Linked DNA regions of Homo sapiens. The protein of the gene in region 1 purifies or fractionates together with the protein of each later gene. This does not show direct contact. Each region holds a gene or a part of one and is shown on either strand. Other genes may lie near its edges.

Region 1 (4,127 bases):
TGCCCAAGCAGGCTGCAGGCCCAAGGAGGAACAAAGATCCTCTCAAGGGGTGCGGAGCTGAGGTTCCGGTCCTGCCAAAGCCACTTGATGACCCCCAAGTGCCCCCCTTTCTGCACCTCAGAGAAGAGCCCTCAAGCCTCCCAGGTCCCCTCCAGGGGCACGAATAAGCCCCAGCAGGGTTCTGAAGGGGTCCCAGGAATCTCCCTGTGGGGATGCGGTGGAGGTGGAGGAGGCTGCGGTGGCCTGGGGACATCTCTGGTCACAGGTGCTGGTGGTATGAGAGATGGGGTAGGCACCAAGCCCCCTGCAGCTGTGGCTAGGCGGGCCTGCAGGAAGGGCCAGGCAGGCTCCTCAGGGACCACAAAGAACAGGGGTTTTCACACCTAGGTGGGCCTGCATCTAGCTAGGACAGTCCCCATCAGGCCATAATGGGCACAGTGGGAGGTAGAACCATGAGTGAGAGAGGGGAGGCTTCCAGAGGCCTGGCCTGGGTCCCTGCTAGATTGAGGGCTCTGGCTATGGTACATGGATATTTCTGCTGTGGAATCAAAGGAGCAGGGGATGCTGAATATCCCCTCTGGCCCTATGCCCTGCTACCTGTCCTTTCACGGAAGGGTGTGTGTGTAGGGGGTGCAGGACCAGGCCTCCCTGGGTGCATCTCTGCCACCTTGCCCTTTGGCTCAGGTGGACCTCCACCAGGTATTCAGAACTCCAGCCCAGAAACGCGCCAAGCCTGTGGGGCCAAGACCTAGGGGGTGGGGGTGGCCTCCCTCCCGCCTGTAGCCAAAGGGTCCTCCCTTGCCCAGCCAGGCCCCGGTGTCGCTTACTGCTCTTATCCACCCCTCCTTCCCAGGCCGGTCCTCAAGGCCCCAGCAAAGGAACCAAGTTCCCGTGAGCCTCCGAAAGGCGAAGGGCAGGCAGCAGCCGCTGGCTTCTGCGCCCACTAGGAGCTTCGGATGCCCGAGTTAGGGCTGCGCCAAGGCGGCCGGAGCAGAGAGGGAGACGGGGACGGGGACAGGCAGGGACAAAGTGCAAGAGGCAAAACTGGCTGAAAAGCAGAAGTGTAGGAGCCGCCAAGGGGCGGGACGAACAGGTCCGTGGGCCGGGCGGAGCCAAGGGTGGGGGCCGGGGTCCCTCCAGGTGGCACTCGCGGCGCTAGTCCCCAGCCTCCTCCCTTCCCCCGGCCCTGATTGGCAGGCGGCCTGCGACCAGCCGCGAACGCCACAGCGCCCCGGGCGCCCAGGAGAACGCGAACGGCCCCCCGCGGGAGCGGGCGAGTAGGAGGGGGCGCCGGGCTATATATATAGCGGCTCGGCCTCGGGCGGGCCTGGCGCTCAGGGAGGCGCGCACTGCTCCTCAGAGTCCCAGCTCCAGCCGCGCGCTTTCCGCCCGGCTCGCCGCTCCATGCAGCCGGGGTAGAGCCCGGCGCCCGGGGGCCCCGTCGCTTGCCTCCCGCACCTCCTCGGTTGCGCACTCCTGCCCGAGGTCGGCCGTGCGCTCCCGCGGGACGCCACAGGCGCAGCTCTGCCCCCCAGCTTCCCGGGCGCACTGACCGCCTGACCGACGCACGGCCCTCGGGCCGGGATGTCGGGGCCCGGGACGGCCGCGGTAGCGCTGCTCCCGGCGGTCCTGCTGGCCTTGCTGGCGCCCTGGGCGGGCCGAGGGGGCGCCGCCGCACCCACTGCACCCAACGGCACGCTGGAGGCCGAGCTGGAGCGCCGCTGGGAGAGCCTGGTGGCGCTCTCGTTGGCGCGCCTGCCGGTGGCAGCGCAGCCCAAGGAGGCGGCCGTCCAGAGCGGCGCCGGCGACTACCTGCTGGGCATCAAGCGGCTGCGGCGGCTCTACTGCAACGTGGGCATCGGCTTCCACCTCCAGGCGCTCCCCGACGGCCGCATCGGCGGCGCGCACGCGGACACCCGCGACAGTGAGTGGCGCGGCCAGGCGCGAAGGGGCGGGGGCGGGGGGCAACGGCCGCCGGGCCAACCCGCTCAGTCACACTCTGAGACCCTCGGCGGGCACCTGCTCGGGGGCCCCGGGAACCGGGGCGGACTCGGGCTCCGGTCCCTTCTGACGCGGGGCTGGGGACGCAGACACTCTTGGCTCCGGCAGCCCAGCGCAACCCCTGAGGTCGGGCGCCGCCTCCCGCCTTCAGAAACTCGGGCTCCGAGCGCCGAATTCCAGCGCCTTCGCCCGTGGGCACAGGGCGCGCGGTGCAGCCACAGGGGGCCCGAGACACGCGCCCCGGCCTGGCCCAGGCTGGGGAACCGCTGGGGTCGGGCTCGCGTCTGAAGGTCCGGGACTGGGTGCGGCCGCCGGGGGTCCCCTACACAGGCAAGCTAATCTGAGCTAGCGCAGGCTTGGGCTCCGGAGGCCCTAGAGGGCAGCTTGGGCTCTGGAGGCCCTTGGGGGCGGCTGCGCCGGGAACCCTGGCCCTTTATCCCCAACCCCACCCCAGAAATAGGGTCCCCGGAGGCGAACAAGCCGAGGGGCGGAGTGGGCCAGGGATCACCTGCCCCGCAATGACCTGCGCCCCGCCCCCAGGCCTGCTGGAGCTCTCGCCCGTGGAGCGGGGCGTGGTGAGCATCTTCGGCGTGGCCAGCCGGTTCTTCGTGGCCATGAGCAGCAAGGGCAAGCTCTATGGCTCGGTGAGTACCGCAGGGGTCTGGCTAGGCACCTAGTTGGGAACAGCGGACATGGCTAGCAGGCTCGTGGCTTCTCCAGCCCCACCTGTGCCTGGGTCTTGGAGGGGTGGCAGGGTCACCAGGTCACGGGACCGGCAGGCCTCCCCAGACAAAGGAAGCAGCCCCAAGGCAGGAACAATGAGGTTCCTGCCATCCCTGAGTGGGCCCCTCCCAGACCGAGGAAAGGGCGCTATTGAGAGCCCTTCCCTTCTCTAGTCCAGAGGGGTAGGTCTCAGTGTTGGAACTGCGGGCTTGAGGCTGGACACGGAGGGAATGAATTCTCTGGCTGCTAGGTGCAGGGCAGGTGGTGAGAGCACCAGCTGTTGTGGGCTGGCCATGTCCCCTTCTCACCCTGTGTGGGTCTTGACACCTTAACTGCTCAGCAGAGACATCTCAGCCCAGGGTGGGGGGTGGGACAGAAGGGGGTTCTGACCCCTGGCTTCAGGCTGGGTACCTTGCCCAAGAGGTGCCCCAGCCCTGACACTGCCCTGCTTTGCTGCAGCCCTTCTTCACCGATGAGTGCACGTTCAAGGAGATTCTCCTTCCCAACAACTACAACGCCTACGAGTCCTACAAGTACCCCGGCATGTTCATCGCCCTGAGCAAGAATGGGAAGACCAAGAAGGGGAACCGAGTGTCGCCCACCATGAAGGTCACCCACTTCCTCCCCAGGCTGTGACCCTCCAGAGGACCCTTGCCTCAGCCTCGGGAAGCCCCTGGGAGGGCAGTGCCGAGGGTCACCTTGGTGCACTTTCTTCGGATGAAGAGTTTAATGCAAGAGTAGGTGTAAGATATTTAAATTAATTATTTAAATGTGTATATATTGCCACCAAATTATTTATAGTTCTGCGGGTGTGTTTTTTAATTTTCTGGGGGGAAAAAAAGACAAAACAAAAAACCAACTCTGACTTTTCTGGTGCAACAGTGGAGAATCTTACCATTGGATTTCTTTAACTTGTCAAAAGTTGTCACGAGTGTGCTGCTATTCTGTGTTTTAAAAAAAGGTGACATTGGATTCCGATGTCATCCCCTGTAGTATGGCGTGGAGCATCTCTGTCTGGAAAGGCCCGCCTGAGGCTTGGGCAGCCAGTTCAGGGAGCTCCCAGGCTTGGCTCTCGGCTAGCATCCTCAGAGGCCCACTCCCTTTGTGCCCTGTTGCTATTAATCGGGACATATCGGTTTACTTCGGGTACAGAAAGTGCGGTGTTGAAGTCCTCGCTGCCACTCTGTTTTTAGATCTGCCAAGACTGACCTTTGAACTTTCCTGTAGTCAATCTTCCTCGATCTACCAGATGGGAGAGACCCTTGGACAACTTTATAAACTCCTGTTTGCCTTTTTTGGATCAGCGACAGCCCCCATCGCTGTGACTATTGGGGAAAAGACGAAGCTCTTTCATAAATTCCATGGAGAGGAATCAATATCCCACTGGAAGGCTAGAAATGGAC
Region 2 (3,500 bases), on another chromosome or scaffold:
AGAAAAAGAAATATTGGGACAGGAAGCTTTTTTCTCACATTGTGTAAACTAGTGTGCGAAATTAAAAAGTATGGGAGGAAAGAGGAAATATGGCATGTACTGAGCGCTCAGTAGGGTGATAAATGTTTTACTACTCATTAGCTCATTTAATTGTATTCTGTACAACTCAGTAAATTTGATCTCATCTCCATTTTACAAATGAAGAAACTCAAATTTAGTAAGGCTACTTAACTTTTTAAAGACACACTGCTAGGAGGGGTAGAGTCAGAATTTAAACCAAGATATTTTCTAGACTTTTAATCTCCAGGGATTTTTTTAAGTAGGTAAAGTGCTCCCCCAATGTTATAGGGGATCATGGATGAGCGAAGACAAACTGATGCTGAAGATGAGATCAGCAAACAGTAGCTCCTGGTCCAGATGACCTGGAGAAGGAGTAGGCATAGGATCTAGACCAGGGTTGTTCAATCTTTTGGCTTCCCTGGGCTACATGGGAAGAAGAATTGTCTTGGGCCACACAAAAAATACACTAACAGTAAAGATAGCTGATGAGAATGAAAAAAAAATGTGTCGGGCTACATTCAAAGCCATCCCTGGCCATGGGTTGGACAGACCTCAACAGGCACATGGATTCCCTATTGGGGAGGGTCTAGAATTCTAGGCTGAGGAATTTTCACCTTTATTCCTCTGGTATGATTTCAACCTGTGGTGTCACCATTTTTAAATGTATTGCCATATCTTGAACATTCCCACTTGTTCTGTCTACAATAAATCTTGACTGTGGGGTTTGCTTTTCCCTATCTCAATTAGGGAGTTGCAGAATGCAAACTTTTTTTACTCTACGTCTGTGAAAAACAAAGAAGACATATATATATTTATTTACTTCATTTTAAAAAGACCAAGAAAAATAAAGTTTGATTTTCCACCATTTCTTTTTGCTATGTAAATTTGCCTTTATTCTGGAGTAAATAATTAAGATTATAAAATAATCAAATTATGCTCACCACACTATCTGGAATGTCTTTTTTGCTTCTCAACTTCCAGGAAGTTAAAAAAGTAACAATTCCTCAAAACCCAGAGCTAGTTCTAGTACCCATTTGGACATCATCATTCCTTCTTGTGAACCTTTTTTACAGCATTTTGTACATGCCTTAGTACCTTATCACACCCTGCCTGGTCTCTTGTTGTCAGCAGCTTTCTAAGATGGAGTGAAGCTCACTCTTCACTGTCTATACTGTGTACCAATGAATAACATTTTTGCACTGAGCATCTAACAAAGTCACGTAATTTAATAGAATGACTCAATAATTTTTTTTGCATGGTACAGTATGCTTCCACCACTTTCTTTTGCTTAGGATAGAACATCATCAATAAATGGGGATCTATTTTCCCAAACTTCACCTTCTAGTCTGCTCTCCCTCCTGCCCGCCACTTCTCCTTTGTGGTTGGGGTCTTTTTCTTTAACCTTTAGGATGGTCAAGTTCAAGCCAGAGAGGCAGAAAAGTTAGTCTAGGTACCACTGAGGGAAGCTGAGTTTCTGGCTCTCTTTCACAGTGTCCAGGAGAAAGACAACCCCAAATAAGGTGCAAAGGGTGAGACTCTACTATTTAATTTTCATAACCTATAGGATAAAATCATATTCATTCATACAAATCACTATGGCCTAATTTTCTATTATAAATCTTCCTAATAATATGACAAGGTCTCAGCAGCCATATTTCTCGTCAGAGAAAGTAATGAACATACTAAAAATAGTTTACTCTCATTCTGATTTAAAATAGGTGCATCATGTCATTCAAACTACATCTGCTTATATTCTATCCATATGTTTGAAGGCTAAAATAAGTAACAAATCATTAAAAAGAGTTTTTGTTTTAAAATTGTTGGCTCAAAAATAGTTACATAAAACATACTTCATAGCTGGCAATGCAGACATTCTTAACTTTTGCCCTGAGTAAATAATATTACCTCTGTTGATCCTGTGAAGGCTACTTTGTCTATATCCATGTGAGAAGAAATGGCTGCCCCTGCTGTAGGCCCATAACCAGGAACAATATTCACTACTCCAGGAGGAAACCCTGCCTAAAAGATAAAAAGTTTAAAAGTTACAGTATAAGAATTTAATTCAAAAAGGAGGAGAGTAGGGGATTGAGATTGTCTCTTAATGCCAACCTTATGAGATGCTCTAGAAAAAAATAATTCACCCAACTGGCTCTATTCTTTAGTCTTATTATGTCATTTCTAAGCACACATAAGAGAATAACTTCAAGGGTTGCATTATTAAAGGACAATTTCTTGTCAGGGTAAGTCCATACTCTATGAATCATTGCTCCAGTGATGGCTCTTTCAAATTTCATAATGCTAACTCAAAAAGATTGTATGTAAAAAAGTGTTTGGTAAGTTACTTATGTAGAAAGTAAGTAACATGTTTATTATTCCCATCAGCAAAAATAAGAAGCTGAAGGGATCTAACATTTTTTAGTTCCTAGCTGTTGTTGATTGTTGAGGGCATAACTGCTGAGTTGCAAATTCCCATTGGCATTACTTAGTAAATTGTTAAGTAAATACTGTCATCCCATTCATGATTCAACATCACAGGTTGATTTCAATCTTCATTAAAGAATTCAGGTGAAGGCATGGGAACTGAGTTGGGCACATTACAATTTCATGTTATTTGCATCGAAATGTTTCATTTTGACATCTCTTTTCCCTGTTTTTAATTTCAATAAATAATATCTTTAAAAGATAAGTTCAGTTTTGTAACTTTAAGTTTCTAGTGATTAACATTTATTTTTTAAGATTTGGTAAGATGAAGAAAAAAGGACAATGAATTGTTTGCAAGTATATTAACACAATCTAGATAGCTGATGAAAATGTTTTACATGTTCTTTTACTGTTTTTGAACAGGAAGATAAATGCAGAGGAACTCATAATAGAAAACTGAATATAAACATATCCACTCATGAGTAGATTGAAAAGTGTTTGGAAATAATGTGGCCCAATATTACAAACAAGCATATTGGCATAGAGGCCCTTTCAACCTTACATAGATTAGTTTACACAATTTTGCAGAAAACACTAGGCCATCAGTGGCAGGTACAAACCAACTTAATGTTTCAACATTTGAAAGAATGCTACATTAATTTCAACATGAATTTATGTTCATGAGAGTTGGACAAAGAAGCAAAAATGTGATCCCAAGTTGACTGTTTGACACCAAACCTTTGTGTTTGGCTTCCTGTCTGCATTTGGGCAGAGATGAATTTGGGGTGACTGCCAGAAATTGCAGCCAGCCGTCATGCTAAATGTATTCCCCCCACTGGACAGGAGCCATCTGTAAATAATGTACTTTATAGTAGCAACAAATGAGGTCTTCCTATTGTAATTTAGGATTCTTGAGTTCTTGAGCATATTTTGATTTCGGGAGACTTACCTCTTTTATTAAAGATGCCACGTGGAGAGCAGTGAGAGGAGTTTGCTCTGCTGGTTTGACAACCACTGTG
Region 3 (3,500 bases), on another chromosome or scaffold:
ACATTTTGGTTGAGAGAGCAAGACATCAAAATCATTATTCAAGTGGGGAGGAAGAATGCTTGGAAATTTGTGCTGATTCTTAAGCAAGGACTTTGCAAGCAGAGAAAATAAAGCTCAATGTCAGTTAACAAACAAATGTGCTATTTCAAAAGATATAAAATAAGAAATCTAGAAATTTTATATTCCTAGATTTATTTATTATATTTCTATATTTCCTGGACAGAGCCCAGGAAATGAACCCAGATCCTTCTTGTAAGGCCCTTCCAAGCTGTGTTGATTTATTTCAGCTTGACTAGACACTGAACAAATTAGCAACAGCTTGTGTTTTATGACATGCTGCAAAGAAACAATGCTATCATTCCAAGTGTTACTCTGAAGATGCAGAACCAGAGAAGTTACTGCTATGGCTCTTGGTACACTTAATTTTCTTCCTACAGAAATGCCCTCACTCAATCTGCTGAAGGCTCACTATTATGTGTTTAAGGTTAGCTTTTCATATAACCTAGATTCACTCTTAAATTCCAAATTGCTTATATTCCTAGTGGCAATACAAGACTGCTTTTACATTAAAGGCCCCTAAAAACATTTATCTAACTCAAGTTATGCAAATTTCAAAAAAGTTAACATTTTTTAAATTTACAATTGTTTTAAATAAGTTTAAAAATATGGCCGGGCGCGATGGCTCACACCTGTAATCCCAGCACGTTGGGAGGCCAAGACGGCGGATCACGAGGTCAGGAGATTGAGACCATCCTAGCTAACACGGTGAAACCCTGTCTCTACTAAAAATACAAAAATTAGCTGGGCGTGGTGGCGGGCGCCTGTAGTCTCAGCTACTCGGGAGACTGAGGCAAGAGAATGGCGTGAACCAGGGAGGCGGAGCTTGCAGTGAGCCGAGATCGCGCCACTGCACTCCACCCTGGGTGACAGAGCGAGACTCCGTCCCAAAAAAAATAAAAATAAAAATAAAAATATAAGAAAAATGCTCCAGTAGACTGATGGAAATGGCAATAAAATCACTTTTAAGTAACTGTTAAGACTGAAAAAGAAGACTGTCCTTTAGTAGCTAATAAATCTGACAGCCAGGAGCAGTGGCTCATGCCTGTAATCCCAACAATTTGAGAAGATGAGGCAGGAGGATCACTTGAGCCCAGGAGTTCGAGACCAGCCGAGGCAACATAGTAAGACTCTGTCTCAAAATATATACATATTATATATTATACAATATATAGTTATAGATTATATATATGTGAGATTTTACATATATTTACATATTTTATATGAATAAGTATATAAATAAAAATAAAAAATAAATCTGACAATTACAATTTTTATCCAACAGCAATGAAAGCACCACAAAAAGATGTTTCAAAATGAACTATCAAGAAGGGAGGTAATTCAAAATGACCACAGAGCAGAATCATCCAGGCAAAATATTACAGCAAAGTTATTACTTACACAGTCACAGTCTAAACTCTAACTGTTCTGTCTGTTAAGCTTAAAATGTAAAGTCAGGACCTTTCACAGATTTTTGAAGCCAGGAAATTGGTCTTCACTTATATACTAAAGAAGTCAGCAGTGATCACCTTCTTAAAACTCAAAGGACAGTTGAGTTCCCTGGGCTCTTAGGCTCAGATTCTGCCCTCAGAAAAACAAGCACTCACCTGACTTTTACAAGTCACAACCAAGTTTGCATGCAAGAGAGAAAAATTAATTCTTTTGAGTCTTAAAAACAATGGAACAACACTTTCCTTCAAGCCAACGAAAGGCTTTCTGTAAGAAAGCCCTAAGCAACCTGAAGGCATTTTGGCCCCCAGTCATCAGAGCACTGAATAAGGACAATTAATTTGCCAAGCTCCAAGACCAGAAACCATAGCCTAGTAGGGAGTAGGAGGTTATAAGTGTTTGTTGAATTACTCGAGTAAACTAGAGCAAAGCATAGAAGACTAAATGAGATCCTAAATAAATGCCACTCTGTAGTATAAGCGCAATGCTAAGATTTAAAAAGAAGGGACTCAACTAATTTTGAAAGTTATTTTAAAATAGGATCCATGGGACCCTAACGTAGTAAATGAAATAAAGGTAAATCAATACTACATAATATGGGGCCGGGCACAGTCGCTCACGCCTATAATCCCAGCACTTTGGGAGGCCGAGGCGGGTGGATCATGAGGTCAGGAGATCAAGACCATCGGGGCTAACACAGTGAAGCCCCGTCTCTACGAAAAATATAAAAAATTAGTCGGGCGTGGTGGCATGCACCTGTGGTCCCCGCTACTCGGGAGGCTGAGGCAGGAGAATCTCTTGAACCTGGGAGGCGGAGGTTGCAGTGAGCCAAGATCACTCCACTGCACTCCAGCCTGGACGACAGAGCGAAACTTTGTCTCAAAAATAAATAAATAAATAAATAATAAAAAAATACTACATAATACGCAAGAAACAAGAAAGGAAACTGGCCTACAAAACTACAGACAAAAATTGAAAACCTTTTTTTTTTTTTTTTTTGAGACAGAACCTCGCTGTCTGCCAGGCTGGCGTGCAGTGGCACGATCTCAGCTCACTGAAACCTCCACCTCCTGGGCTCAAGGGATCCTCCCACCTCAGCCTCTGGAGTAGCTGTGATTACAGGTGTGCACCACCACGCTCAGCAAATTGTTGTATTTTCTGTAGAGATCAGGTTTCGCCATGTTGGCCAGGCTGGTCTCGAACTCCTGACCTCAAGTGATCCACCTGCCTCGGCCTCCCAACATGCTGGGATTACAGGCGTGAGCCACCACACCCAGCCAAAAACTTTTTTTAAAAGTCAAGTTTGGCCAGGCACCGTGGCTCACGCCTGTAATCCCAGCACTTTGGGAGGCTGAGGTAGGCGGATCACAAGGTCAGGAGATCGAGACCTTCCTGGCTAACACGGTGAAACCCCGTCTCTACTAAAAATACAAAAAAATTAGCCGGGCATGGTGGCGAGTGCCTGTAGTTACAGCTGCTGGGGAGGCTGAGGCAGGAGAATGGCGTGAACCTGGGAGGTGGAGCTTGCAGTGAGCTGAGATTGCACCACTGCACTCCCGCCCGGGCGACAGAGCGAGAGACTCCATCTCAAAAAATAAATAAATAAATAGATAAATGTCAAGTGTGATTTTTTCAAGCATATTCTTATTGTTTATGTTTACAAGTATGAGTATTCATAGACACATCACACTTATACTAGTATCAAATATGATACATCTGAACTACTACTATACTTGAATATTAACGTAAGCCTCTGAGGAATTCACAGTAATAGAACTGCTGTTATTTAGGATTACTGATCCCCTATTGTCTTGCACTTAGAAGATGTTAATGAAAGATGATGACAGGATTGTGAACACACCAACCTCCCTGAGAACAAATTCATTATATTCAGTTTTCTACAAAACACAAATGAGGATCATTACAAAAGGATTCACAACAAATTCCTCTGGATTTCCATTTCTCCCAGGTAAGTTGAAATATTATTCAAACCA
Region 4 (4,024 bases), on another chromosome or scaffold:
TTTGAGACAGGCTTACGCCATCATCCAGGCTGGAGTGTAGTGGCACAATCTCCGTTCATTGCAACTCTGCCTCCTGGGTTCAAGCAATTCTCCTACCTTAGCCTCCCGAGTAGCTGGGATTACAGGCTCGCTCCACCATGCCTGGCTAATGTTTGGTGTTTTTGGTAGAGATAGAATTTCGCCATGTTGGCCAGGCTGGTCTCAAACTCCTGACCTCAAGTGAGCCGCCTGCCTCGGCCTCCCAAAATGCTAGGATTACAGGGGTGAGCCACCACATCAGGTCTTTTTTTTTTTAAGATAGAGATGGAGTTTTGTGAGTTGCCCAGGCTGTTCCTGAACTCCTGGCCTCCAAAAGTGCTGGGAGAGTTCAGACATGAGTCATCACATGGCGTTCATTTCTTTTTTATGGCTGAATAATATTCCACTGAATGGATCTACCATTGTTTGCTTACACCCTCATCAATTGTTAGTTTGGGCTGTTTCCACCTTTTGGCTCTTTGACTATTGTGACTAGTACTGCCAAGAACATTACTTGTTTGAGGACTATAATTGCCGGATCATATGGTAACTCTATGCTTAACTTTTGAATTAGAAACGGTGTTTTAATTTTTCGAATATGACTCCTTTACGTGTCTGTGTCTGTTTCCATGTCTTCCTACTGTCTTAGTAGGAAGCTCACGACTCATTTGCGTAATTTTTCTGGCCCCTGAAGGCACCTGATTTTGCTGCCCCTAGAATACTTTGGAGGCAAAAAGAAAATAACTCTGTGCCCAATTCAGCCAGAGTCGTGGGGTAAAATCTTTTCACTTCTCAAAGTACTACTGTGGTTCATCCCCAAAGGGGGGAAATCAGGTTTTCCGGAGAGGAGGCGGCTACAATTAGGGAGGTGAGGGACCTCACGCGCCTCTTCCTTAGAGGAGGCGGGCGAGGCGAACGGCGGAGGAGGAGAAGCGGGGGCGCTGTGCGCTCTCTGGGGCGTGGGCCGCGCTCGGGGCTGCCCACCCCTCGGGAACGAGCCGGGGCGCTCAAGGAGGCAGCGACGCGAGGCGCAGCCGGTCCAGGTTTCGCCCGCCACCGCCGTGCGGCGCCTCTGCGGGTCAGGGCCGGGGGCGCGGTCGGGGCCGGGCGGGGCCCAGGTTGGCTCGCGGGTAGGCGGCCCCGCCCCCCACATCCGGGGGCCGGGGCCGGGCTGTGGGCTTGCCGCGCGCCGGTGAGTCAGGCCGGGTTTTCCCTCCGCCTTTGGGGCAGGCGATCGAGCGCCGCGGAGCGCGTCCCTCCCTCGCCAATCCGGCTCCGGCGCCGGCGCCCGCCCGCGTTTTCCCGGCGCCTGCCGCTCCGCCGCTCCGACCCGGCACGCAGTCCCGGCCCGAGCCGACGCCTTGCAGGAGGGTTCAAATCCGCGCGGGGGAGCTGCGACGCGCAAGGGCTGCGGAGCCGCGGGCCGGCGAGCGCGTCGCCACCATGGTAAGTGGGGCGCGCGAGGGGCTGGGGACCCGGGCTGGACTCGGGGGGTGGGGAGGGGTGGGGCGGGTCGCCAAGGTCTTGTTTTCGGGCGTCCTTGGCAAAGCTGCTGTCCCGCTGGCCGAGGCTCCCGTCTGAGAGATGGGCGGGGGTGGCAAGGTGCGGCGTGCGCCCAGGTGTCCCCTGCTCCCGGTCACCGAGGCACCGGATCGGGGACCGACCCCGATGCTCCGCTGGAGGGGCAGGCGGCAGGCTACCTTGCTCTCCCCAACCCCTGCAAACGCGCTTTCCAGGGAGCAGCGCGCGGGACCCCTGCGCCACGGCTGGGTGGGGCAGGCGTCCTTGGCGCCGGCGTCTGACCTCGGCCTCCGCCCCCCGGCCCAGCCGCTCCCGGCAGGCCTCAGGGAGGGGCCAGGAGGAGACGCGCCTCCCACCCCGCCCCCCAGGTAGCTCCGGGACCTCCCGCAGCTTTGGGGAACCCTCGCCTTCACCCCTGCTTTCCTGACACAAATTCCGTGGGGATGCAACCTCGTTTGCCCCTCTGACTTCCCCATGAGATCTCTCGCTTCCTCCCACACCTCCTTTATCCCCCAACCCCCTGCCGGTCCACCAGGCTGCAGCTGCGGGTCTGCGGGTAGGGGACATTCCTAGGTCTTGACCGCCAGAGCACCCGGTCCAGTCCCGGCCACAGCCTTTGGCCCAAGTGAGGGCTGGCCTGGGGACAAGCCGAAATCAGGGCCCTGGCTGTATCCAGAAAGAGAACTGAGACCCGTTGCCTCCCACTGGGCCACCCCCCGACCCCAACCACATAGGAACAGATTGGGCCTGGCTGTCCTCGGGAGGGAGCGGACGCAGGAGGCCATCCTGGGCGCGGTTATCAGCCTCCTCCCAGGGCCCTCCCAGGCAGGGCTTCTCTACCGGCTGGCAGCGTGTGGTGTGCATGTGCCAGACTGTGAATGAATGCGGCCAGCCTGCCTCTGCCACCGCCTCTAGAGCTAGCATAGCGACTCGGAGTCCCCATGAGGCAGGTTTCCTCTATTTCTTCCTGACCTGGGGGGCAGCAGGAGGGATTCCAGGCCTGGTGGACCGCAGTCTAGGGCAGCCTGGTTGCAAGTGTCCTTGGGAGAAACAGGCATGGAGGGCTGGGCAGACATATATGCAATACATACACAGCAGTGTGTGCCCATGGAGGGGAACCCGTGACCCCTGGCTTAGGACAACCTGCTGAGGTAGAAAGGACCTTGCCCAGGGAGTTGAGATTGCTTCTCACTGTGGGATCTTGGATAACTCACCTCGCCTTCCGAGGCCTCAGTTTCCCGATCTGTAAAATGGCGTGAGGGTAATTACTGTCCTGTTTGCCCCCACGAGGCTATTGTGGAGATGAAATGAGATAATGAAATAGAAGGGCTGAGAAAAAACTGTAGACTGCGGTGCAGCCGTGAAGCACTATATGGTGATACTAAGCACCACTTCCGCAGGCTTTAGCCCCTGTCTCTGCCTCAAGTGTCTGTCACAGAGGGGATGGGGTGGGCCAGCCTCTCCCAGCCCCTCTCTGGGCCCCCCTTGCCTACTACCCCCCCCTTTTGGAGCTGGGACATTCCAGTCCCATTCCTTAGGGGCAGCTGCAGACACGCCCCTTAGCAGAGCTGATCCCCCAGCAGGTGGTGGGACCTTTCCCTGGGGCCAGGGCTCAGGAGGGGCTGACTGTAGCCAGGGCAGGCAGCACTCCTGCCCATGTGGGGACTGGAATGTCCCACCCCAGAGGAGATGCAAGGTGGGATCCGAGAGGACTTCTAATCCTGGAGCCTGTGTGCTTTCTCCCCTGCGGCTGAACGTGACCTTAGGCGTGTTACTTCACTTTCTGAACCTCAGTTTCCTCTTGTGAAGTGGGGGATGACAGAACTCATCTCCTGTGTGTCTTGTGAGGATGTGATAGTGCCCTTTGGCGTGACCCAAAAGGGCACCAACAGGCTCTGGGACGCCCCCCTCAAAGAAAGCGCGTCCTCTCCTTCTTTGCTTCCTGGCCAGGGCAGCTGTGTCTTCCATCTCCACCAAGGATTGGTCCGAAAGCAATTCCTCTCCGTGTTCAGAGATTCCAGTGCTGCCTGCTAATCTTGGGGACTGGAGAGGGGTGAGGGGACTGGTGGCGGGGAGCAGGAGTGAAGAGGCCTTACTGGGGCTAGCCAGGACCTGTGGAGAATGTGGCTTGAATGTCCCAGCCCAAATCTAGCCAGCTGTGTGGCTGGGGGTTTGCCGCTCCCAGCTCAGGGAAGCCCAGGCACTTGGCTTGTCCCCTACCCTTCTCTCCACGACCCGTGCAGGGTCCCCGGCTTTTTGCTCTGATGTTCCAGTGAGGCTGCAAGGCACTTGCTGTCCTCCCTCCCTCCTCCCCCACCAAATCCCCTCCGCCTGCACAGCTGCCCTGCCCAGCTGCCCTGCCCGGAGCAGGCAATCCCTGGGCTTCCAAGCAACAGGAAGGAAGGAATGTATGTGTTGGGGGAGGGGGTGGAGGTAGGATGGACCCCTTTAGGAAAAGAGACTGTCCCCACTCTGTGACATACGC

Evidence for each region. The genes of interacting proteins can lie anywhere in the genome.
Region 2: the proteins of FGF4 (region 1) and ALDH1A1 purify together in Homo sapiens (affinity purification with mass spectrometry; one large-scale study listed by BioGRID and IntAct). This does not show direct contact.
Region 3: the proteins of FGF4 (region 1) and TGFBR3 purify together in Homo sapiens (affinity purification with mass spectrometry; one large-scale study listed by BioGRID and IntAct). This does not show direct contact.
Region 4: the proteins of FGF4 (region 1) and N4BP3 purify together in Homo sapiens (affinity purification with mass spectrometry; one large-scale study listed by BioGRID and IntAct). This does not show direct contact.

Annotation. Positions count from the first base shown.
Region 1 is NC_000011.10:69,772,542-69,776,668, reverse strand, and holds the start of FGF4 (fibroblast growth factor 4 precursor), read left to right. Parts: upstream 1-1,327; 5' UTR 1,328-1,584; coding exon 1,585-1,924; intron 1,925-2,541; coding exon 2,542-2,645; intron 2,646-3,183; coding exon 3,184-3,360; 3' UTR 3,361-4,127. UniProt on the Homo sapiens protein: Plays an important role in the regulation of embryonic development, cell proliferation, and cell differentiation. Required for normal limb and cardiac valve development during embryogenesis.
Region 2 is NC_000009.12:72,922,054-72,925,553, forward strand, and holds part of ALDH1A1 (aldehyde dehydrogenase 1A1), read right to left. Parts: coding exon 3,431-3,500; intron 2,080-3,430; coding exon 1,966-2,079; intron 1-1,965. UniProt on the Homo sapiens protein: Cytosolic dehydrogenase that catalyzes the irreversible oxidation of a wide range of aldehydes to their corresponding carboxylic acid.
Region 3 is NC_000001.11:91,879,652-91,883,151, forward strand, and holds part of TGFBR3 (transforming growth factor beta receptor type 3 isoform a precursor), read right to left. Parts: intron 1-3,500. UniProt on the Homo sapiens protein: Cell surface receptor that regulates diverse cellular processes including cell proliferation, differentiation, migration, and apoptosis.
Region 4 is NC_000005.10:178,112,308-178,116,331, forward strand, and holds the start of N4BP3 (NEDD4-binding protein 3), read left to right. Parts: upstream 1-1,224; 5' UTR 1,225-1,464; intron 1,465-2,458; exon of another isoform or gene 2,459-4,024.